7 linked regions of the Homo sapiens genome follow. The protein of the gene in region 6 interacts with the protein of the main gene of each other region in a pairwise test. Each region holds a gene or a part of one and is shown on either strand. Other genes may lie near its edges.

What was found.
Region 1: the proteins of CEP70 (region 6) and EIF3D interact in binary tests that used the Homo sapiens proteins (3 or more experiments, as listed by UniProt).
Region 2: the proteins of CEP70 (region 6) and CFAP53 interact in binary tests that used the Homo sapiens proteins (3 or more experiments, as listed by UniProt).
Region 3: the proteins of CEP70 (region 6) and ZCCHC10 interact in binary tests that used the Homo sapiens proteins (3 or more experiments, as listed by UniProt).
Region 4: the proteins of CEP70 (region 6) and PIMREG interact in binary tests that used the Homo sapiens proteins (3 or more experiments, as listed by UniProt).
Region 5: the proteins of CEP70 (region 6) and ZNF227 interact in binary tests that used the Homo sapiens proteins (3 or more experiments, as listed by UniProt).
Region 7: the proteins of CEP70 (region 6) and DNTTIP2 interact in binary tests that used the Homo sapiens proteins (3 or more experiments, as listed by UniProt).

What each region holds. Positions count from the first base shown.
Region 1 is NC_000022.11:36,522,667-36,526,166, forward strand, and holds part of EIF3D (eukaryotic translation initiation factor 3 subunit D), read right to left. Parts: intron 3,466-3,500; 5' UTR 3,456-3,465; coding exon 3,333-3,455; intron 3,044-3,332; coding exon 2,998-3,043; intron 2,067-2,997; coding exon 1,930-2,066; intron 1,315-1,929; coding exon 1,229-1,314; intron 616-1,228; coding exon 543-615; intron 1-542. UniProt on the Homo sapiens protein: mRNA cap-binding component of the eukaryotic translation initiation factor 3 (eIF-3) complex, a complex required for several steps in the initiation of protein synthesis of a specialized repertoire of mRNAs.
Region 2 is NC_000018.10:50,231,996-50,235,495, forward strand, and holds part of CFAP53 (cilia- and flagella-associated protein 53), read right to left. Parts: intron 1-3,500. UniProt on the Homo sapiens protein: Microtubule inner protein (MIP) part of the dynein-decorated doublet microtubules (DMTs) in cilia axoneme, which is required for motile cilia beating.
Region 3 is NC_000005.10:132,999,518-133,002,549, forward strand, and holds part of ZCCHC10 (zinc finger CCHC domain-containing protein 10), read right to left. Parts: intron 903-3,032; exon of another isoform or gene 879-902; intron 685-878; coding exon of another isoform or gene 657-684; coding exon 615-656; intron 1-614.
Region 4 is NC_000017.11:6,443,163-6,447,254, reverse strand, and holds the start of PIMREG (protein PIMREG), read right to left. Parts: upstream 2,801-4,092; 5' UTR 2,767-2,800; intron 2,180-2,766; 5' UTR 2,145-2,179; coding exon 1,851-2,144; intron 1,845-1,850; exon of another isoform or gene 1,224-1,844; coding exon of another isoform or gene 1,068-1,223; intron 1-1,067. UniProt on the Homo sapiens protein: During mitosis, may play a role in the control of metaphase-to-anaphase transition.
Region 5 is NC_000019.10:44,215,532-44,219,031, reverse strand, and holds part of ZNF227 (zinc finger protein 227), read right to left. Parts: intron 1,242-3,500; 5' UTR 1,240-1,241; coding exon 1,180-1,239; intron 1-1,179. UniProt on the Homo sapiens protein: May be involved in transcriptional regulation.
Region 6 is NC_000003.12:138,587,761-138,591,260, forward strand, and holds part of CEP70 (centrosomal protein of 70 kDa), read right to left. Parts: intron 1-3,500.
Region 7 is NC_000001.11:93,872,707-93,876,206, forward strand, and holds part of DNTTIP2 (deoxynucleotidyltransferase terminal-interacting protein 2), read right to left. Parts: intron 3,078-3,500; coding exon 2,939-3,077; intron 509-2,938; coding exon 413-508; intron 1-412. UniProt on the Homo sapiens protein: Regulates the transcriptional activity of DNTT and ESR1. May function as a chromatin remodeling protein. Part of the small subunit (SSU) processome, first precursor of the small eukaryotic ribosomal subunit.

The sequences.
Region 1 (3,500 bases), on a different chromosome or scaffold from region 6:
TGGTGTTTGGGTGTGCCTCCTGGAATTCATTTGGCAATCTGGTTGCTACTGCGGCAGTGTCGGGAGGTAGGGCCTTTAAGAGATTAGGTCGTTAAAAGGAATAAATGCCTCATGCCCTTCTCTCAGGAATGGGCTAACTACCCAAAGTTTAGCCCTTTTCTCTGTTGCACCCTGCTCCCGCTTCTGCTTTTTCTGCCATGCTATCAAGCAGCATGAGGCCCTCACCAGATGTGGCTCCTGATCTGGGACTTCCCAGTCCCCAGAACCATGAGCTAAAGAAACCGCTTTATAACTTACCCACTCTCAGGTATTCTGTTCTAGCAACGGAAAACAGATCAAGACAGGGTGACTGCTAAAGGGTAAGGGATTCTTTTGAGGGTGATGAAAATGGTCTGAAATTGACCAGTTACAGAACTCTTCAAATATATTAAAAACCACTAAATTGTACGGTATGTGAAGTATATCTCATCTAAGCTATTAATAAAGACAACCAAATAAACAGAACCAAATTCCAAGGCAGAATTCTGGTATAAATACATTACCTGTGATTTCTGATCCCATTTCTGCCTAACCCCAAATTGTTTCTGGAACTTTTTCTGCAGTCGAATGCGTTCTCTGGAAAGACAGACATATGATCTCAGTGCAGACCTTTAAACCAGTGGCTTCTTCAAAAGGCACACGCTGCCATTCTCTTCAGCTAAACCTTACCATCACCACTAACTCCTTTAAACTACGAAAAATGGGCTTAGAGAAAGGAAGAGACCCAGACGGTGCATACTGGAGGTGTTAGAAAAGGTACACTGCCTCCAAATACTGACCAGATGATTTTACTTCATCTATAGTGACTGTTCACTGATAGTTCCAATCTGGGGTGTAGTGGCCGCTGGACCACACAACACCAGGAGGCTCAAAGGACCAGCATACAGGGGGCTTCCTAGAGTTGACCCACAGCAGAACTGAGCCCAGGTAAGCTCCAGAGCCTCTTCTTGCCTGCCTGTGTTTCCCTTTAGTGCGCATGACCAGCACAAGGAGTTAGTTTCCTGCCCATGCTATCTGCCATGAACCAGCCTGAGAACGACAAGCTAAAAGGGGGCTTAACTGGTTGTAGAAAGTATTTTCCTTTTTTGCAGTGGTGGGGAATACAACCATCCTCCTGCTTTGGTCCTGTGGTTTCCAAATACGGCCAGTCTGGGAAGGGTGTCTTGTTCCAGCAGGATGAAAATCTCACCTCTCTTTCTGTTTGGCACTCTTAGGCAGGATCTGCAGGTTGAACTGCAACATGTTCCGACGATCTTTGTCTCTGCGGAGGTTCCTCTGGGCATCAGCAAGAAACATCCATGTTAAAATCTTGGAGATTTGGCTCACAATAGGCAGAACAAGTGGGAGGTCTTTGGAGTAAATTTAGGATGCCAAATCCCAAGTTTCACATCTTACTCTGTGCTTTCACTCTACGGCATCAACAGCTTGGGGGTGTTAGGGGGTAAGTGCTTGGACTTTGCTTAGACCTATACTCCCATGATATATTTTTCATTGAAGTATGTTTACTGGGTCTCATTAGATTTTCTGAGTTTGCCTCTTTAAATAATAATAGGCAATCTGACTGGACCATCTACTTAATAAAGTCTGCACACAGCAATTAAGTGTGGTAACAGGCACAGGTGCACCTTCTTATCCAGCACAAATGTTTTTAGCATACAAGTCTGATGTCCTAGCTACTGGCAAACAGAAATATAAACTATTTAAATGCATCCCTGATCCTAGTGCAAGTTCACCTTGGTACCACTTGTTATGGAACGGTGACCCGAGATTCACGAAAAGACCTATAATATGCTTCCCTCTCTCATTAGGAGTCACAAGGTAGCATTTTTTAGCAGGTGATGGCCAACAGTAACAGCCCCAAGATGGTGTGGTTGCTGGCTCTTGGCCTACCTGGGCAAATCTCATTCGATTCCGCTGGTAGGCCGTCTTCTGTGTGCGCGCTGTATCCACCAGCTGGAAGCTACTTTCATCCTCCTCATGGAAATAAGCATATTGACTTCCACCACCAAACTGAGAGGAGTACTTATCTGGAGGCAAAGGTGATGGCATGTAGTAACTGCACCCACAGACTTTACCAGATATGCACCAGTCTAAAGCCTTGCTATTTCAAGTGTGGTCTTGAGACCTGTAGCATTGGCTGAAAGCTTGTTAGACACACAGACTCACAGTCCCACCCCATACCCACTGAATCAGAACCAGCATTTTAACAAGATCCCCGGATGATTCATATGCACATTCAATTTTGAACAACTCTGGCCTAAAGAACTTTCTAAGCCAAGAATCTGAAGGACTCAAACTAACCCATTTCACTCTCTGCGTTATTGTGTGAGAATCTGAGGTATTTATTGCTAACCACCATCTCCATTATCAGGGGCCCATGGCAGGTATGTCTAATAGATCACGATATACTTTCTTGCCAATCTCAGCCTCAGCTATCCTAACTTAGTTCTCCAGGCAGCCACCTCCAACTATCTGAAGTGGCAGAGAGAAAAAGCCTTTTTATGGTACCAGGATCTTAAAACCAGGGGTTTTACTTTTTTTTTTTTTTTTTTTTTTGGAGACAGGATCTGGCTCTGTCACCAGGCTGGAGTACAATAGCATGATCTCTGCTCACTGCAACCTCTAACTTCTGGGTTCAAGTGATTGTCCTGCCTCAGCCACCCGAGTAGCTGGGATTACAGGTGCACGCCACCACGCCCAGCTAATGTTTTCAACAGGTTTTTAAAAGGGCCCAAAACCCCATTTTAATAGGCTAGACCTCTTTAATGAATGGTCTAAGTTTTGAGGGCTATTTCCAAAAATGTGGTTATTGTTAAAGCCCAGAATACATCCCTAAAAGTTATGAATTATTGTTGGCAGTTTCTTCCCATTCTAAAAAGCTTTCAGAAGAAGGTCATTAGAATAAAGAACAACTTTCCCAAGGCCCTGATTGGGGCATTCAGTTGCAGAAACACTTACTTGTGTACCTCTTATCTTGGTATGTGGCTCCTGTCCAGTCTGCAACCTACGAAGAACAAGAAAAGACAGAGAATGCACAGGTCAACCAGGCAAGTTTCTGCAGAACCAGAAATCCCTGAGCGCGAGAGGACAGCGTGGAAGAGTCTCAGAATTTGTTCACAACACCTCTGTAAGTGCCCAGCTCTTCTATGACTACACCCAGAGATAACCTTTCTCAGCTGGCATCCCTATAAGAAATTCAGGAGTTAAGATTTTGAGACAATAAAATCTAAACAGGGACTCGAGAGTAGCAGCCACAGCTGCAAAGATTCAGACTCCTGCTGACAGGCATGTACCTTTCCTAGCCGATCTCCTTTGCTGAACGGCTGGTAGGGCATATCCCGAAACTGCTCGGGAACCGCACAGGGACCCCAGCCTGAGGGGTTGTCCTGGATCACGGGTGTCATGAACTTTGCCATCTTCCAAAATCTGAAAAATATAAATCATGTGAGTAGCGGCATGAA
Region 2 (3,500 bases), on a different chromosome or scaffold from region 6:
CCAGCATAAGGCCCCTGAGTGGCCGAGGGGACTTTCTTAATAGGTGGGACACCCCTTTAGAAAGTGCACCCCAAGTTCCTCAGTAGACCTAAGTGGAACTGCTTTTCATCTCGGCTGGACATCCTGAGAGAAAGTGCAGTTTGTGCCCCTGAGTTGCACCATCCCCAAGCAGCATGTTTTCTAGTCCCACCATGGGACAAACCCCATCTATTCCTTCAGACTCACTTCTGGGTTGTATCCTAAAACATTAAGACAAATTTAACTCTCAAACCCTCAAAAAGAAATGTCTAATTTATTGTGTAACACAGCATGGCCCCTATGTAGAAAACCATCAAATTAGCCTCCTGAGTCCTTTACAACTGACAGCAGAATAAGGAGGACAGGGCTAAGAAGAAAGAAAAATGCAGAGGCAAGAGACAGGCTCAACTGTTGGCTGCTTTACAAGCCCCAGCCCCTCCAGGTTTCCCTAAAAATACATTCCTTCAGATAACTGCCATCAGTGCAAAACGCCAGGTTACTGAAAGGCAGAGTGCCCCAGTGGAATAAATTTTAAAAGCCCTGCCTGGCTTACTCTCTCTGCCACAAGCTCAGCCACTGGAAAAAAGACTGCCCTGATGATCAAAGGGCCCCCAGGACAGAATCTCAACCCCTAATGGCCTTATGCTAAATAGGCTCTCTGCTCTGTCTGGAAACAGCTCACCTTAACTGATAACTTGCAAAGTTGGGAAGAATTTATCCCACACCTTGTAGGTCTGGGGTGCTAATGCTCTCCCTGGCGGGAGATAAACAAAAGTGGCAGGGGTACTGACCTTGCACTGTGCAGTGGCTGGAAGGCTCACAAGCCCTCCTGTAAAGCCTGACCTTTTCCTCTCCATTCCTTCCTTTTCTTTTTCTCTTTTTCTGTTCAATCCAGGGGTCCAGCCTTAAAAGGGAAAGACAGTTTCTAACATCCTAACCCCTGATTTTGTCATTCTCTTTAAAACTCCAGCTGGTTACATATTATGGTACATTTTAAACTAACGGGCAAACTACAACAAGAAAAAGTCAGAGCTCAAATGGTTAACCTGCACTATAAAGTTAAGTGAAGTCTTCTATAGCTCTCTATCTTCCTTTTTTTCTGCCTGCTTTAAATCTGCTGTTACTAAGGTCCTGGTGCTGAGATAAAACTCATTCTTTGTGGTCTAATTAGAATGCAAACATCGAAAACTCATTTAAAGTTAAAGAAAAAAAGGTAAAAGAGGTTTTGTTCAAACAACCCAGAATTTTTAAACCTCCCTTAAAAATAAAAAATAAATAAATAAATCCAACACCTCCTTTAGACCTTACTCTTAAGGCTGACTCTTTTTATCCAATTCTACTACAGGCTTTCAGTAATTATCCAACTGCCTCACTTAAGCAGCGTCACCCTCTTAATATTGATGCTTTTATAAGGGAGGTAGTTTACGACTGCTATTTGCAAGCGGACTTCCAAGATTACCACCCAGATGAATTTTTTTGTATATTTGTCCTAGTAATGTCATTTACCCCCACACCACATCAGTGTGCTAAGGTACTAGGTGTTTGGTTAACTGTTTTTCTCATATTCTTTACAGCCCTTCTTCTCGCCTGTCTCCCTGAGTTTACTACATATTGTCATTTTCCTTAAAAATGGCTTTGTTTTTATTCTATCACGGCTATTGCCTCCATGGCTGGAGCCAGGCACTTACTCCTCCCAGTAATATTTCAGGTTGCTAACATAACACACAGCACTAACTTCTGGATATGCCCATGCGGACAGGCACTCAAAGATAACATTATATCCTAGCAGTCCCGCTATCCATAGAAGAAATTACTAACAAGCCTGATACTCTGGATTCAACTACACCATTTACACACACACCAAAAACACAGGTTTAGGAGGGGAGCCTAGGCCAATTGATTCCTCATGGCAATCATCCACTGTGACGGAGCAGATTGGGAAGGCACCAGAGATGGCCTGTAAGGTTCACCTCTGCATCAGAAAATCCGAGGGATCTGGCCCTTTTATAGGCACTTGTAAGGCTCACCTCTGCATCAGAAACTCCAAAGGGTCTGGCCCTTTCCTAGGGTGTTTAACATAAGCCCATTGTAATTACACCCTCAACTATAATCAAACACACCAGGAATGGAAGCTATATGACAACAATGACAAGTTCACTGTGTACCTCTGCAGGTTTTCTCTATGGTGGGGAAACAACAAAGTTAATGCCAGCAAAATTTATAGTGATCCTTTTATGCCTATAAACAGTTCAGCTACTGGGATAGAATATATAGGAATAGGGGTTGAGATTGGACAACTTCTCAACCTCACTAATACATCTACAACTTTCTCTTGATTTTCCGTTATCTCATTAATGTTTAAAACTCTTATCTGCCAGGCCCCACATTCATATAACACAAGTAAAACTTTCCTCCCTTATGCATGAATGACTACTTTCTAGGTCACCACCCAGCCACATTTGATCCCTGGGGACCATGGGATCCCTCTATTTATGCAAATTATACTGGAATCCAAACTAACCACACCTATGCCTGGTTACAAGGTCCCTCCTCAGGAGTTTCTTTAAAAGGAACTGGGCTCTTCTTTTTGTGTGGATCCAACATTTTTCCAGCCTTGCCTATTAAATGGAGAGGACGTGCACTATAGTTGCAGCAATACCTGGAGTACATATATATAACTCCTTAGACTTTATAACCTCTGGCCAAGTTCCAAATTTGTGATCCTTCCTAAGTTGGGCCCTTCAAAGGCCATCAGAAGAAAGGAAACAGAAACGGGATTTAATCAACCTTCCATCATTTGGCATCCTCACCACTGATGATCTCATTATAGAGAGGAATGGTCTAGGACATTCTGTTGCCCATGCAGTCTTTTGGTTTGCAGGTATACCCATGCTTGAGTGCAGCATTTGTAATATCACCATCTTAGTCCAGCAATCTTGAGAAGCTAAAGTCATGGCCATCAAGGCCCAATAACAGGTCCTAAATTCATTGGCAGGGGTTGTCTTGCAAAACTGATGTGCTGTGGATGTGCTTAACGCTGAGGCAGGAGGCACCTGCATGCTGTTAAATGAAACTTGTTGCTCTTACATCAATACCTCAGGTCAGGTAGCAAAAAACTTTAGAAAAGATAAAAGAAGACATCAAAGTATTAGAGGGCCCTCAAAAAGGAGTTCCTGAAGATTCCTTTCTGGCACAGCTATTTCAAAGCTTCTCCAGCTGGGTTTGGCTATGGGTTGCCCTACTTCTCCCATCTATAATAAAGCTCATATTGGCTGGGTGCGGTGGCTCACACCTGTAATCCCAGCACTTTGGGAGGCTGAGGCAGGTGGATCACCTAAGGTCAGGAGTTTGAGACCAGCCTGGCCAATATGGTGAAACCCTGTCTCTACTAAAAATTACAAAAATTAGCTGGGCGTGGTGGCATGCGCCTGTAACCCCAGCTACTTGGGAGGCTGAGGCAGGAGAATCACTTGAACCTGGGG
Region 3 (3,032 bases), on a different chromosome or scaffold from region 6:
TCAGACCAGATATGGCTGGCCAACAATTTCTTACCAGTCTATTAACACTTCCTATTCTAAGCCAAGAGAAGACAATTATTTATTGTTTCCACGTACAAGGACTCTAGAAAGTTGGAGTAAAAGGAGAAATGGAAGCAATGCATTTCCAGACAGGTTAAAAAAAGGAACTTATCAGAAAATAGGATGATTATTTAATTATAAATTGCAGTAAGAGGCTTCAGATCCAAATCTTATAGCTATTTTTTTTTGAGACAGAGTTTCGCTCTGTTGCCCAGGCTGGAGTGTAATGGCATGATCTTGGCTCATGGCAACCTCTGCCTCCCAGGTTCAAGCAATTCTCCTGCCTCAGCCTCTCAAGTAGCTGGGATTACAGGCATGTGCCACCACACCCAGCTAATTTTTCTATTTTTAGTAGAGACACGGTTTCACCATGTTGGACAGGCTGGTCTCCAACTCCTGACCTCAGGTGATCCACCCACCTTGGCCTCCCAAAGTGCTGGGATTATAGGCATGAGCCACTGCATCTGGCATAGCTATTGTTTTAAAATCACCTTTCCCATCCCGCCAATTAGTATTACATGTTATCTATAAAACACTGCTAAAACCACACATACCTTTTTTTCTTGGCCTTTCTTTCTACATTGGTTTCTCCAATGCTGATAAACACGAGGGGGAAAAAAGCTCCTGTTAATAGAGTGATTATACACAGCTCAGACAAGCCCTTCTACTATCCCCCAAATCATTTTACTCTGGAGAAAGATTCTGTGTTTTTATCACATACAGAGTACAGTATTTCTTATTATAAGCAAGTGGAAAGTCTGCCATTGTAGGCTGTATACGGTACATGCAGTCAACTTAACCAGCATTTAAGCAAGACAATGCATCTTAGCACGTGTATAAAAGTCAGGTAGGTTAGTAGTTAAGATGATTAAATTTTTTTAGTCTGGAACTTAGGCTGATATAGCTGTATCACTACCTCCTGAACAACAGAACAAAGCTAATAGCACAATAGCCCTAATTTGTAGTTTGAGTTCTCAGAATCATACAAATAGCCATTTCATAATTTTTCAAAAGCAGCCCTTTAATTTAAAATAACTATTTCTTTTTCTGCATGTCCCGTTATTTACTTTTTTTTTTTTTTTTTTGAGACAAAGTCTTGTTCTGCTGTCCAGGCTGGTGCAGTGGCGCGATCTTGGCTCACTGCAACCTCCGCCTCCTGGGTTCAAGGAATTCTTCTGCCTCAGCCTCCTGAGTAGCTGGGACTACAGGTGTGTGTCACCAAGCCCGGCTAATTTTTACATTTTTAGTAGAGACAGGGTTTTATCATACTGGCCAGGCTGGTCTCAAACTCCTGACCTCATGATCCGCCCACCTTGGCCTCCCAAAGTCCTGGGGATTACAGGTGTGAGCCACCCTGCCTGGCCGAGTTATTTACTCTTTAAAGACCAGAAATGTAATACTTCAAAACTATGCTCACTCACATTAGTTATAAAGTCTGGTAAATTTGAATGAAAGGGACAAATAGCTTGCTGCTATTATTCTGTCAAACAACATGCATACTAAATCAGGTTTTTAAATTACACAATTAGGCCAGGTGCGGTGGCTCACACCTGTAATCCCAGCAGTTTGGGAGGCCGAGGCAGGCAGATCATTTGAGGTCAGGAGTTCGAGACCAGCCTGGCCAACATGGTGAAACCCTGTCTCTACTAAAAAAAACACAAAAATTAGCCAGGCTTGGTGGTGCATGCCTGTACTCCCAGCTACCCAGGAGACTGAGGCAGGAGAATCTCTTGAACCTGGGAGGCAGAGGTTGCAGTGAGCTGAGATCGCACCATTGCACTCCAGTTTGGGCGACAGAGCAAGACTCTGTCTCAAAATAAAAACAACAACAACAACAACAACAAGAAAAAAACAATTAATTCTATCACCACTGTCCTGTAAATTTAACTTTTTTTTTTCTTTTTGAGATAGGGTCTCACTGTTACCCAGGCTGGAGTGCAGTGGCATGATCTTGGCTTACCGCAACCTCTGCCTCCCAGCCTCAAGCAATCCTCCCACCTCAACCTCTGGAGTAGCTGGGACTACAACACGCACCACCATGCCTAACTTTTGTATTTTTTGTAGAGACGGGGTTTGACCATGTTGCCCAGCCTGGTCCTGAACTCCTAAGCTCAAGCAATCTGCTCACCTCAGCTTCCCAAAGTGTTGGGATTACAAGTGTGAGCCACCACACATGGCCAATGTTTTTATATCCTGGCCTTCTCTATATTTCCTAGATAATGCTTCCATCATTGTTTCCTGAGTCTCCAAACATAAACATGTATTTATGTAAAGTTTTTTACACAATGGAATTACTTACTGAATTGTCATTTTGGGCATAAAATAAGAGGGTGAAGTATACTTATTAAATTATAACTGAATCAAAATTCAGCAATCTTTTTTTTTTTTTTTTTTTTTTTTTTTGAGATGGAGTCTCCCTCTGTCGCCCAGGCAGGAGTGCAGTGCTGGATCTCGGCTCACTGCAAGCTCCACCTCCCGGGTTCATGCCATTTCCTGCCTCAGCCTCCCGAGTAGCTGGGACTACAGGTGCCCGCCACTATGTCTGGCTAATTTTTTTGTATTTTTAGTAGAGACAGGGTTTCACCATGTTAGCCAGGATGGTCTCGATCTCCTGATCTTGTGATCCACCCGCCTCAGCCTCCCAAAATGCTGGGATTGCAGGTGTGAGCCAAGGTTCCTGGCCAGCAATCTTTTTTAACAGAGCCAGATTCATGTAATTATATATATTTTTAGACCAAAATACTTGTGAGATACAATTAGAAAAACAAAAGTAAATGTCAAAATAAAATTTTATTTATGTATTTATTTTTTGTAGAGGTGAGACTTGCTATGTTGCCCAGGCTGGTCTCAAACTCCTGTCCTCAAGTGATCCTCCCACCTTAGCTTCCCAAAGTGCTAGGATTATAGGTGTGCGCCTAAACTAGAATGAAAATTTTCATAACCCGTATTTCATTCTTTAGGACAGGGGTCTT
Region 4 (4,092 bases), on a different chromosome or scaffold from region 6:
CTGTAATCCCAGCTACTTGGGTGGCTGAGGCATGAGAGTCGCTTGAACCCGGGAGGCGGAGGTTGCAGTGAGCCGAGATCGCACCATGGCACTCCAGCCTGGGCGACAGAGTGAGACCCTGTCTCGAAAACAAACAAACAACAACAAAAAAAAAAACCAAGGGTGAGCTACCTTGGTCTCCAGACCATACAAGCAACCCCTACACTCAGCAAGTGTCCTGTAAATACAGGCTATTGTTAGTCTCCAGGGTGAAGGATGTGAATGACTCCTCATGGAATGAGTCCACGGCTGGGACCCAGCTCAGAGCTCTTGGATATGACAGCAGCAGTCAGCCGCAGGAGGACCCCCCTGGTGCCTGGAGCCTGTTTGTCTAAGTCCAAACTCTCTTTCCAGACAGACGGTGACCCCAGGACTGAAGGAGAGGGCCCCAAAAGAACAGGCCACCCCGCCCAGCACCCCCTGTACACCAAGAGAGCACCTGTCTTCTTGCCTCGGGTCTCACTCACTCTATCCACCCTCCACAGTGGTCCATAGTGATCCTTCTAAAGGGCAGTTCTGACCGTGACACTCAACTGCTCAAAACTCTTCTGTGGCTTCTTGTTGCCCATAGGACCAAGCCCCAACTCTTGGGCCTTTCACACCAGCCGGGTGACAGCCGTGAAGGCTCTTCTTCATCAGCTAGACTGTCTTTGCCTTGACAAGCCAGAGCCCAGTGTTTGGAGCGAAGCCCAAGTTAAATTTGATGAGTTATGTGACCTTGGACAAATTCATTTCATTTCTCTGATCCCTGAGGGTGGTGAAAACAATCAAAAAGTGCTTCCAAATAAGGACTAACATTTGGCTCAGAGAGCTCTCTGCAGAGGGTCCAGAAAGAGCCACCCACTTTCTGGAGAATTCTTTCATCTTCAGAATTCCCAATGAGACACCGAGGAGAAGCCTCTGCAGCCCCCAATCCTCTCCCTGGAGGTCTGTTCATCCTAATGGCTTCTGTCCTTTCTAAGTGACACGTCTACACCTCCAGCTCTGGGTTTAAAGATGCATCCCTTGAAGGGTCCACAGACACTTACATCCAATATAAGGACGTCTTCCTGACAGCAGCTCTCATTTGACAGCAAATCCCCTCTAACTGGACCTTCTCGGCAGCTCCTGAAGTTTATCCCCTGCAAGTCCAAACCCTTAGTCTCCATCAGGAGCATCTCTGCCTCTATTCCCTTCTCCATCATGTAGCTAAAGGGCAAATTCTAATATGCTAATTAGACCAGACTTTCCACTGTTTAGAATCTTCCGGACTCCTGATCATTCCTGGGAGAGTTCTAAGCTCCTTCATATCCTTTCCCCCTGCTCTACCTTGCTCTCTGTCATCTGTTCATACCCAGACTACAATTCTGGCTCTCCTCAGGGATACACAGCTGAGTGGGCAGTACACCTTGCTTTCCCTCAGCTCTAGGCCTGGACTTGCACTATTTCCCCTACCCTAAATACCCCTTGACCTTTGCTTCCCTGGGTGAACTCTGGAATCACCTCCTCTGGGAAGCCTTCACCGACTAAGCTTGCATTTGGTGAGCCTCACTATTGGTCACTTGCTTTGCAATTTCCTATCACGTACAGCTCTTATCACCTGGTATTGTGAGCATCTGTTTCCTCCAAGACATGCTTTCATTCACTCATTCAACTATTTGTTGAGCACCTATATGTGCCAGGAACTATCTGGGGTGGTGGGGAAACAGCAGTGAACTAACCAACGTCCCTGTTTTCATGAAGTCTATATTCTTGAGGCTCTTTGAGGGCAGGAACTGCCTGGCACCAAGGAAACACTCCATAAAAAAGATGATTAGTGTTGTCAGTATTACCTGGGACACGGCACCCAAAGCACTCTTAGCTGAGCGAGCTGCAGCCTGGAGGCCCTGCTGACCTGGCTCTGGGGTTTCCAGGCGTTTCCAGGAGGGCCCTGCGCGGAGGTTGAGGTTGACGGCTCTCAGGGGCAGCCTCCTTTGGAACTGTCTGCACAGGGACCCCAGGGCCCCTACAGAGGTCTCCTGATGGCTGACCACAGGCTGCAGCTCCTTGCTGTCCTCCAGCTGCTCCTGGTGCTGGAGAGATCTCCGGCGCACGGAGGTCCCCATGTTCTGCCACCGAGAAGCCATCTGCCTGGCCAAGAGTCTTCTCTGTCCACTAGACCCTGGGGAGGAGGGCGAAAGGCAGATCAGCAAGGCATTCCCCATACCCATTCCCAGGCCCCACAGAGACCCTGGACACAGGGGAAGAGACGGGATGCAGCGGGGTGGCGGGGGCGGGCGAGTTGGTAAGTGTGGGTGCAGGAAGGAGGATGCTTCCTGGAAGAGGGGCCTCGGGTCAGCAGCATTTCTGATGTCCCGCCCTTCAAGTTTCCAAAACAGCTGTCTTTTCATCCCAACCTCCTTCCTCTCTCTGGCTCAGGCGAGGAGGGGAGGCAGGGTCAAGACACGCCGTAGCCGAGCTTCAGCGCTGGGCCCAGGACACGATCACCATCTTCTTCACCAGCTCGCCCAGACCAAACGCGCACCCGCCCAGACCCCGGCCTTCCCACCAGACGCCCCGATTTCGATCCGACTTCTTGTGGTACCCAGACGACCCCACAGGCCGTGCGTGTCCGAACCTGATGCCCTCCCCTGTGAACAGAACCTGATGCCCTCCCCTCCGAACAAAAAAATTGTTTTGAGTCCAGATCGCGCCATTGCACTCCAGCCTGGGCAACAAGGGCGAAACTTGTGCCCAGCCCGCACTCACCCGACACCACTAAGGCCGAGCACAGCCGCAGCACAGCTGCTCCTCGCCCACCGCAGCCGATTTGAAACTCTGCGCGGCTCCGCCCCCGGCCCCGTCCTCACAGCTGATTGGTTCCGTCCCCGCCCCCGCCACCGCCACCGCCCCGGGGATCCGATTGGCTCCCTCTCTCGCGGCTGCAAATGCTGCGCTTGGATTGGCCCGGCCGTGCCCATTCATCGCTCCGGCCCCCGCCCCGCCGCCAGCCTCGTGGCTCCGGGCTTTGTATCCTGCGTCCCGCTCGCGCCACTGCCCTTGCTAGCCCAGCCCCCGCGCATCGCACACCGGGTCCCCTCCCTGGAGCGCGCACAGGGTTCAGGCTGCTCTGACCCATGGGGTGGAGGCGGAGGTCCTGGGACCTAGGCCTCCTGGCTCAGGCCCCAGGCCCCAGGCCCGGCAGCGGGCAGAGACCCCTCTCATCCTGCCAAGGGGTCTGGCTTTTCCTTCTTGCTCAGTGGTTTTGTCAGAAGGAGCCAGGGACTGGCAGTGCAGAGCCCTGGGTTCCCAGAGACGTTTTCTTTCAAATTTCCCTCCTGACCCTCCCTTCCTGTGACAAGACACTGTCCCTCTCTGAGTTCCCCATACTCGCCATCCACGCTCCGCCCTCCCTAGAAAACGCGTCCCGGAAGCGGGGATAGACCAGAGTACCGGTCTGCCCTCCACCCGTCTACACCGGCTCCCCGCCCCCGCCTTGCCCCACGCATCCCTCCCTCTCTCCAGCGGAATGCCTGCCTCTCTTCTCCTTAGCATCCAAACAAATGCAGCCATTATAAAGCTCTCTCCAGCTCATCTTTCTCCTTTCGGTGACCTCAGAGCAGTGCTGCCCACTCCCCCGGCTGGTTTCTTTGTTACTTCTCCGCACAAGAGCCTGAGATGATGGCTTCTTGAGACTCTGTCTTCAGCCCTCTCCGTTTCTGGGTGGTCTCACCCACTCCTTTGGCCTCAGTGATTTCCAAGGAAAGGATGATGATAATGATTAACGTGTATATGGCACTTAGTATGCACAGGTACCGGTGTTGCAGTTTATTAACTTACTTGATCCTCTGCTATGGTTTGAATGTGTCCCTCAAATTTCACATGTTGGAAATGTAATGCCCAAATTCATATATCGGTGGCATTTTTTGTTTGTTTTTGAGACGGAATTTCACTCTTGTTGCCCAGGCTGGAGTGCAATGGCATGATCTCGGCTCACTGCAACCTCCGCCTCCCAGGTTCAAGCGATTCTCCTGCCTCAGCCTCCCTAGTAGCTGGGATTACAGGTGCCTGCCACCACGCCTAGCTAATTTTTTG
Region 5 (3,500 bases), on a different chromosome or scaffold from region 6:
CCTGTAATCCCAGCTACTTGGGAGGCTGAGGCAGGAGAATCGCTTGAACCTGGGAGGCAGAGGTTGCAGTGAGCTAAGAACATGCCATTGCACTCCGGCCTGGGTGACAAGAATTAAACTCTGTCTCAAAAGAATAAAAAGGTAACATCAGGTACTTCTATCATATGTGCTCATCTCTGTGAATGGAAAACTCTTTTGTTCTGTCTGCCTTTACATGAAAATAGAATGCCAGATATTCCTAATAGTTGGAAGCTTCAGTGTCCAATGAGTCAGCTACCTGGGAAATTTGGGGCAGTTATAAAATGTTCCCATAACCTGTTTCTTCATATTTAAAATGCAAATAAATCATCTCCATCCTCACATCTGAAAAATGCAATGACAGATGGAAAGGGCTAGCAAGACATCTAAGTACTACTAGACCTTACGTACATGTAGTTACTTTGATGAAATAAATTCATACAAGAAATAAATGAGTGATAAAAACATAAACGGGAAAAATATATAGCTCTTCTTCTCTGAAAGCATCTAATAAAATTACACCATGTCATTCTTTAGATGTTCTGTTTACAAAACACCTGAGGGAACTGACATGAAACTGAGACATAAACCTCTTCAATGCAGAGTTCCTAAAACTTTAAGGACAAATAATATTGAATTCCACCAGAATTTCTTTTGAAGGAATTGTTTTTATATGTAGGGAAAAAAGTCACTGGATTTACTTTAAAGTAGTAAAATTCTTAAAATTTCTGAATTTCTGAAAGGCTAAATAAGAAATAGTTTTTGTTGTCTTTTAAGGGCACTGCAATTCAATGGCATATGATGTACTCACTTACAATGCAGGTGATGCAATTAAGTGGAGAATGCACAATTGAAAATTTCATCTACTCAAGTATTGCAAAATGTGTATGAAAAAGGAACATGGGAAAATGAAAAAAGCTAGTTCATAAGCAGGGTAGTAGCATAGATTATTTCTGATTAAAGCTTCTATTATTTTTTCAAACACTGTTTTGTAAAATAGTAAAGGTGATAAACTAAAACAAAAAAACACATACATGTCAGCATACCACATGTCCTGAATATCTGTTTCCCACTAACCTTTCCAAGAAAGAGAAAAAATAAATCTGTTATCTTTGAGAAATAAATCACATTTTAAAAGACAGCAAGGAATCCTTTACGTACCTGAAACTTGGTCATTTTCTCCTGCTTCTTCTGGGGAAGGTCATAGTTCTGAGATGGCATAACTGGGGGAGACCAAAGACGCCATGAGACACAAGCCTGCTGTTAGCCCATGTGTACATATGAGGAAATTAGAGAAATAGCCCTACATTCAGACAGGTATAGCCACATACAGCTTGGTAAGCAGAACATGGACTGTATTCCAGCTACTAAATGGCATGATAGTTCAGTGCCATTGGGCAGTGAACAGTCTGCACAAGTGCAGCATCCTTGCTACAAGGATTTCTGATGGCAGAGACAGCAGGAAACGAGAGGCAATGTAACAACATATGAGGGCTCTCAAGTCAAGTATCTGGGTTTAATTCCTAGAAATGATACTTACCAGCTGTGTAACCTTGGGGATATTAAAAACCCTCTCTGTGCCTCACTTCTGTTATGTGTACAATGAGGATATGGTAAGAATCATAAATCGTACCTCCCTCATAGGGTTTTTCCAAGGATTAAATAAGTAGATGGAGAGTTCTAAGAACCAGGAGTCCCTTTCTCTTATAGTTACAAAAAAGCTTCTTCATGGCTTCTTGCTGTTTAGCCAGGCCTGGCACAGTGGCTCATGCTTGTAATCCCAGCACTTTAGGAGGCCAAGGAGGGAGGATCACATAAGGTCAGAAGTTTGAGACCAGCCTGGCCAACACGGCAAAACCTCATCTCTACCAAAAATAAAAAAAATCAGCCAGGCGTGGTGGTGCGGGTCTGTAATCCCAGCTACTTGGGAGGCTGAGGCATGAGAATTGCTAGAACCTGGAAGGTGGAGGTTATAGTGAGCCAAGATCACGCCAATGAACTCCAACCTGGATGACACAGTGAGACTCTGTCTCAAAAAAAAAAAAAAAAAAAAAACAAGCAGATGATACTTTGCATCACACACTTGCCTTGCAAATATTGCTCTCCTATGAAAGTCACCTTTAATTTCTGAAAAGCCGAAATCTGACTTAAGGTTTCTTTTTAGTAATTTGTTGCCCAGCTAGTAATATTTTACTGACACTGTTATCAGTTTTCTAAAACGTATCATTCTGGGTCAATTTACTTCATGAAGCCTGGAAACGATCATTGGTACATCTCTTTTATTTTATGTGCACAGAGAAAAACACACAGCAAAGAGAAAGATAAAGCACAAACGAAAAATCAAGAAACATGAAAGATAAATTGAGAGGCTTCCGTATTTGTCTAACAGGAATGGGAGAAGAGAAGGCAGGATGGAGGGAATGACTGAGAGGTTTTAATTTCAAGATGCAATTGCTGAGAATTTCACACAATTGGTAAAAGATACAAGTTCGCATATAGAAATTCTAAACAGTATAAATAAAAATAAACATACCCTAAACAAATCACAATAAAACTCAGAAATGCAAAAGACTAAACGAACATAAAGAACTGGAAACAACAACCTTAAAGCTCCTAGAAAGAAAATATAGTTGACCTAAAAGAAATAACAATTAGATTGACAGAAATAGGGTAACAGAATGGAGATTTAAAACAAATGAATATTACCTCCAAAATAAAGAAACTGTCAACCTGAATTCTATGTTCAACTAGATGATTATTTACATGAGAAAGAAACAATATTTTAGCTGAAAAAAAAAATGAAGAGAATTTATAACCATGTGAACCCTAAAAGATGGACTGCAAAAAGCAATGGTAAGAAAACATTTGTGACTATATTGGTAATATAATAATCTTTGTTTAAAAAAAGCCAAAGAACTATAATGACAAATTTTGAGGGTGGTTATAATAAAAAGTAGACCTATAAAAACATAGCTTTTTTTTTTTTTTTTTTAAAGGTACATCTTTTTTTTTTTTTTTTTTTTTAGAGAGAGAGTTTCGCTCTTGTCACCCAGGCTGGAGTGCAATGGCACAATCTCAGCTCACTGCAACCTCTGCCTCCCAGGTTCAAGCGATTCTCCCACCTCAGCCTCCTGAGTAGCTGGGATTACAGGTACGCACCACCACGTCTGGCTAATTTTTGTGTTTTTAGTACAGACGGGGTTTCATCATGCTGGCCAGGCTGGTCTCAAACTCCTGACTTCAGGTGATCCACCCGCCTAGGCCTCCCCAAGTGCTGGGATTACAGGCATGAGCCACCGCACCTGGCCCCATCTTCTTTCAGATTTTTTTTAGTCTCAATATTCTTCAGAATAAGAACACATGCTGATTAAGTTTAGTATTTGCTAAGAAAGAGAATATTTTTAAAGTTAGAAGAATGACACAAAACCATATAAACTCCAGACCAGTTGAGCACAAATAAAAGGGAATAAACTGAACAAAAA
Region 6 (3,500 bases):
GCAAGACCCTATCTCTAAATTAATAAATGAATGAATGAAAAAGAAGAACAAAGTTGAAGGACTAATACTATATCATTTCAAGGTTTATAAAGCTATAGTAATCAAGACAATATAGCATTGATATCAAGATAGACAAACAGATTAATGAAACTAAATAGATTCCAGAAACAGACTCATACATATATGGACAACTAATTTTCACCAAAGATACGAAGGTAATTTAGCAGGAAAAACGATAGTTTTTTTTTTTCAATAAATGATGCTAGAACAATGGGATGCCCATGTACAAAAAAAAGAGAAAGAAACAGGACTTTCAGCCATATCTCACACCATATACAAAAAAATTAAAATGAATGACATAAATCTAAAACTTAAAATCACAACATGTCTAGAAAAACACAGAAAAACTGTATGGCCTTGAGTTAGGCAAACATGTCTATGATATGACACCAAAAGCATGATACAATTCAAGAACAAATGGGGCTTCATAAAAATAATGTCTGCTCTTTAAAATATAACATTCTGAGAATGAAAAGAGAAACCACATACTCAGAGAAAATAGTCAGGAATCAGAAAAGGTTCATATCCAGAATATATAGGGAACTCTCAAAACTTAGTAAGGAAGTTAACATCAACAAGAAGTAAACAACTGAACTTAAAAATGGTCAAAAAATTTCAATAGACATTTCACAAAAGAAGACATACAGATGGCAGCTAGGCACACAAAAAGATGCTAAACATTGTTAGTCAGGAGGGAAATGCAAATTAAAACACACGATGTGACACCACTACACATATTAGAATGGCTAAGAATGACTAGACCAAGTGTTTTCGAGGATGTGAGGGAACTAGAACTCTCATATACTGCCGACGGGAATTTAAACTAGTACAACCACTTTGTAAATCACTTTGGCTATTTCTTAAAAGGTTAATAAGCACTTACCATAAGACCCAGTCATGCCATTCCTAGAATTTACCCAAGAGAAATGAAAGCATTATGTCCACACAAAGACTGTACACAAATGTTCGTAAGAGCTTTATCTATAATAGCCAGAAACTGGAAACAACTCAAATGTCCAGCAGCAGGTGAACAGACACACAAACTGTGGTATACCCATTGGATGGAATACCCCTCAGCAATAAAAAAGAATATGTGCAACATGGATAAATGTCAAAATAATTACGCTGAAAGCCAGCCATAAAATAGTACATACTATAACATTCCATTTATATAAAACTCTAGAAAATGAAAACCAACTGTGGTGATAGAAAGCAGATCAGTGGTTGCTGAGAGAATTGGAGGCTAGACACAGAGACTACTAACGAGAACAAGGGAATTTGGGGGGATGATGGATATATTGACAATCCTGATTGGGGTGGTTTCATAGGTGTATATGTAAGTCAAAACTTATACTACATATGTGCAGCTTATTGTATATTAAATATATCAATAAAGCTGTTTTAAAAATAAAGTTTTCCTGAAATTTAAAAAAAGATTTGAAACTACAAATGGAAAGAAAATATGAAGTACCTGAGAATACTGACCCAAAACAACCAACACAGTGATATATTCTAATATTATTAGCAGACTTTAATGAAAAAGAAAAAATTTGGCTGGGCGTAGTGGCTCATGCCTGTAATCTCAGCACTTTGGAAGCCTGAGGCAGGTGGATCACTTGAGCCTGGGTTCATGACCAGCCTGGGCAACTTGGCAAAACCCTGTCTCTCAAGAAAAAAAAAAAAAAAAATTAGCTGGGTGTGGCAGCATACACCTGTAGTCCTAGCTACTCAGGAGGCTGAGGTGGGAGGACTGCTTGAACCCAGGAGGTGGAGGCTGCAGTGAGCCAAGATCATACCACTGCACTACAGCCAGGGTGACAGAGTAAGACTGTATCTCAAAAAGAAAAAAAGAAAACAAATTATTTGGTTATCTACAAGAAAAAAACCCACATGACTTATAAGAAGAAGAAAAATTAGATAATAATCTGACTTTGATACCAATACTTTATTCCAGAAGAAAAAGGAGTAATGTATTTAAGAAATTCACGGAAAAGAAGTGTGAGCCAAAGACTTTATATCTGCAAAATTGACTTTGAAGTATAAAAAGAATAAACTTTGATCAATATATAAGAACTCAGACAATATTACTTCCCGAGGAATCTAACAATGTATTAGCTTCAGGTAGCCAAAATGCCTAGAGAGACCTCAGCATAAACACTGGTGGTAAACATTAAATATATTAATAGAACTAATAGGCTAAGAGGGAAAAAGCAGAACATGAAATGGCTATATACTCTGACAATGCAGATAGAGCATAACTGTTAAAACAGAGAGAGAAGAAAAAATGAGAAGAACATAAGCCAAAAAAAAAAGGTTTAATGTTTTCAGTAATCATATTGATGGTGATTTCAGAAATATAGTTCTGATACTGTCATATGTATAATACAGAATAATGAGTAAATATGGAATATTCTATTTTCTCCTATATTCTTGAGAATCATGATTCTCAGTATGGAAAAAAGGAGTTACAGTTGTGATAGAGAAGTTGTTAAGTAAAAGCTCTGTAATCTCAATCTGAAGACTGGAAGTAGAATACATTAGGTATCTTTTAACATGTGTGTCTATAGACAGATACAGGTATCCTAGCTCTGTCTACTGAAATGCCTGAAACAGTGACTAACTCAGGATCTTTAGCATTCAGACTGTAACTGAAATATTATTTCCCTCTAAATGAAACCCGGGCATTTTAAAGAAATGGCTGATTTCATATCTGCGATAGGAATTGTTCAATATATTATATAACAAGGAAGCTATCAAAAACTAGGAGGCCAGGCTCACAGTGCAGCTTGGCCAACATGGTGATACCCCGTTTCTACTAAAAATACTAAAAAAAAAAAAAAAATAGCCGATCCTGGTGGTGTGTGCCTATAATCCCAGCTACTTAGGAGGCTGAGGCAGGAGAATCACTTGAACCCAGGAGACAGAGGTTGCAGACAGCTGAGATCGTGCCACTGCACTCCAGCCTGGACAACAGAATGAGACTCTATCTCATAAATAAATAATAAAAAAAAAACAGGGAAGTGATTACTACAAAACTATAAAACCCAGAAGAATGGTGACTAAATGGGAACACAGGAGTTTTGACTGGGATAGGGTAATGGAGGGGATCTGGCATACCTGAATGGTATGGTCCTGTAATAATTTATTAAGCTATACATTTGGTATGTGATTTATAACAAAAATTTCATTTTACGCTAAAAAGATTTTGTTAAATAACAAAAAATAGAAAAGTAAAGGAAATGCTAACCTAACCAAAATAAAGCTGGTACGGGTTGAACGTTCCTAATATGAATATTTGAAATCCAAAATGCTCCAAAATCCAAAACTTTTTGAGCACCAACTTGACACCACAAGTAGAAAATTCCACACCTGACCTTATGTGACAGGTCACAGTCACAACTTCATTTCATGCATAAAACTATTAAAAATGTATAAAATTA
Region 7 (3,500 bases), on a different chromosome or scaffold from region 6:
AACTCCTACAAGTTATTTAATTTTGTTTCATTCATACAACAAGTATTTAGTTAGTGCCTACCATGTGCCAGGGTGCTCCATATTACAGTAACATTACTAGAATACCATCCTCAACTTTCCTTCAAGCTCTCTGGATAACTAGTCGAAATGGCAGATAGAAGTAATCTATATATATATATATTTTTTTAAAAAACCTCTACTTATAGATGCACTATTGTGGCTGCAAAGATGTGAAAATCTATACATAATGTGTTTATGGTACTATATTTTACAGCCCTTAGAAATCTGTAATTATTTTCTTTGGACTCATATATAGACCAACAGATACAGTTTAATTGTGCAGTTATGTTGTATAAGCTGAAAATATATAGCCAAACATATCTAAGCATTTTAATTAAGTCACTGTACTTACTCTGCGTTTTTTCTGAAGTTGATACTTTGATTCACTATATGGTGGAACACAGTGGTTTTTTTCAAAATCAGGTGTAATGACGGCTTTCTGCAGAAGCTATAAAAACATAAAATTGGTTTTAAAATAATGTCAGAATGTTATATAAGTTTTTCAACAGTTTAAACTTCTGTAAGTTTTAAAATTTTTAGTCAGCCTGGCAAAGTGGCTCACACCTATAATCCTAGTGCTTTGAGGAGGCCAAGGGAGGAGGATCACTTGAGGCCAGGAGTTTTAGACCACCTTGGTCAACATAGCAAGACCCTGACTGTAAAAAAAAAAAAAAAAAGAAAAGAAATTAGTTGGGCATGGTGGCACACACCTGTAGTCCCAGCTACTCAGGACGCTAAGGCAGAAGGATCACTTGAGGCCAGGAGCTTGAGGCTGCAGCAAGCTATGACTGTGCCACTCACTCCAGCCTGGGTGACAGAGTGAGACCCTGTCTCCCCCCAAACCCAGCTCCCTCCCAAAAAAAAAAAGAAAAAAGAAAAAAAAGGCCAGGCACGATGGCTCATGCCTATAATCCCAACTCTTTAGGAGGCCAAGGCAGGACAATCACTTGAGGCCAGGAGTTCAAGACTAGCCTGGGTAACATAAGAAAACGCCATTTCTCCAAAATAAATAAATAAATTTGTGCAGTCAAATCTGTTTATCTTTTCCTAAATGATTTCTGTACTTTTGTTACTTGACTAGGATGATTATATTCTCCTAAAACTCTGTGTGACTAAAGGAACCTCAGGTTAATTAGTATTTTTCTCAGTACAAGAACCAAGTAAGACTGCTCTGTAGCCCTCAAAATAGTTTACAGGAATATAGTACAAGCATTAATTTGGGACTGACATTTGAAATGATCAACTCAGAAATTAACAGTCAGGCACACAATTCAGGTTCAGGCCTAGATGTTTCTGTGTGGTATAGGTAGCCGTCTAGGCTTTCCTATCACTCATAAAAGGGGGCATGATATTTACTTAACAAATGATTAAGAGTTTGCTGTGAGTCAAGTACTGTAGTACATTCAAGGACAGTGGTTCTCAACTGGGAGCATCTGGCAATGTCTGGAGACATTTTTGGTGGTGGTGAGGATAAGGAAGAATGCTACTGACATCTAGTGGGCAAAAGATAGGGATGCTGTTAAACATCCTACTATGCACGGAACATCTCACAACAAAATTATGCAGCCCAAAACATCAGTAGTGCTGAGACTGAAAAACCCTGTTTTAGGAATATAAAGAAAAGATGGTAAGTTAATATATCACATGATCAACAATGAATCAGATCTATGCTAGATGTTATGGAAACAGAGGGGTTGTGAGAAGGACTGGAGGTAAAATATTCCCCAAGGGCAACGATCAATTATTTTGCACTTGCTTGGGGAAAAGCAGGGTAAGTTCAGGCAACTACAGTAGTCTTCAGTGGCAAGAATAGAGCAGATGACAGCTGGGTGGGGTAGAGAGGTACTTTGAAGGATTCAAGAGAATACTGTCACATCTGTGTGTGTGGTGTGTTTTTTGGGGCAGGGAGGAGAGATGTGGTCTAGCTATGTTGCCCAGGTTGGTCTCAAACTCCTGGGCTTAAACAATTCTCCTGCCTCAGCCTCCCAAAGTGCTGGGATTATAGATGTGAGCTACCTTGCCCAGCCGGATTTGTGTTTTTAGACAGAGAAATCTAGAAGTGTGGAGGATGGCTTGAAGAACAAGATGAAAACAAGATCAATAAGGAAGCCACTGGAGTAGTCCAGATGAGAAGCAAAGGCCTGCACTAGCTGGTGACAGTCGCTTGAAAAGGAGGAAGCAGAGAAATATCTTCCCCTAGAGGCTTGGTGACTGACTACAAAAGGAAAAGAGAGTTTGGTTTCATTAGCCAGAAAAAAGAATACAAGAAGAGGATTCCTGGTTCAGGCAGGGAAAGGGGAATTAGTGACGTCAAGTACCTGAGGACATCTAAATGAACAAATAGGTACTTGGATTTAAAGGTCTGAAAGTGACAGTGAGAAGCATCAAGGCTAGAAAATATAGATTTAGGAGAAAACAGTGCAAGGTGTTGGCTAAAGCTAAGGGTTTGGGTAAAGTTACCTTAACAGTAATTCCTTCTGAAATTATATGTAAAATGTCTATATGCACATGTGCATTTTTTTCCGGGTGGAAGAGGCAGGCAGGCATTCACAGCTTTCAGATTCTCAACAGTCTACACTAGTTAAGAACTTAAGAACTAAAAGTATAGCAAGAAAAGGGAAAAAAACAAAACCCCTGGGATCATAATTGGTGGGTGTAAGATGAGGAACACTGACCCTGTATTGATTTATTTTTAAAGCATTATCATTCATAGATAGGATTTTATTGTAAAAAGAAATGACTGTTTTAGAGAGAAGGAAAAAACTAACACATTAGGCCAATGTGGTTTCACTGTAGGAAAATTAAGTCTTTTACCAAGGACTAATTTCTAAAAGTGATTGGTTAGTTCTGTGAAAACCTAACAGCACAATTAACTTACCTCATTTTTCTTTTTCTCCTTGATCTGTGTTAGGGTTCTCTTGTTAGACTGTAGTTTATCTGCATTAAAATTAATATACAAACCACCCAACTGCTTGATACTCAGACCAGGGTCTATGCTGCTGCTTGTCAACTTCAGACTGAAAAAGAAATCATCACTTAAAGATCAAGTAATTAAATCAAAATGGAAACATATAAGATGGCATTTTAAAAAATCACTTATTCTTCTCTTCCCTTGTATTGTCCACAATAAAGAAAAAAAAGCATCTTATTTTTATGAGGAATTCCTGAAAAAAAACTCTAAATAAATATATTTTTCATCATTTTATTTTATTTTTTGAGACAGGGTCTCACTGTTGGCCCAGGATGGAGTGCAGTAGTGACCACTGCAGCCTTGAACTCTTGGGACTCAAGTGATCCTCCTACCTCAACCTCCCTGGGTGGCTGGGACTACAGGTGCACACCCAACACCTGGCTCCATAATGTCAAATGAATGAGCCATTCCATGAAGAACCCAAGGCAGTGATTTTCTCATTCCCCAGGCTAACATTTCATATTTTTAT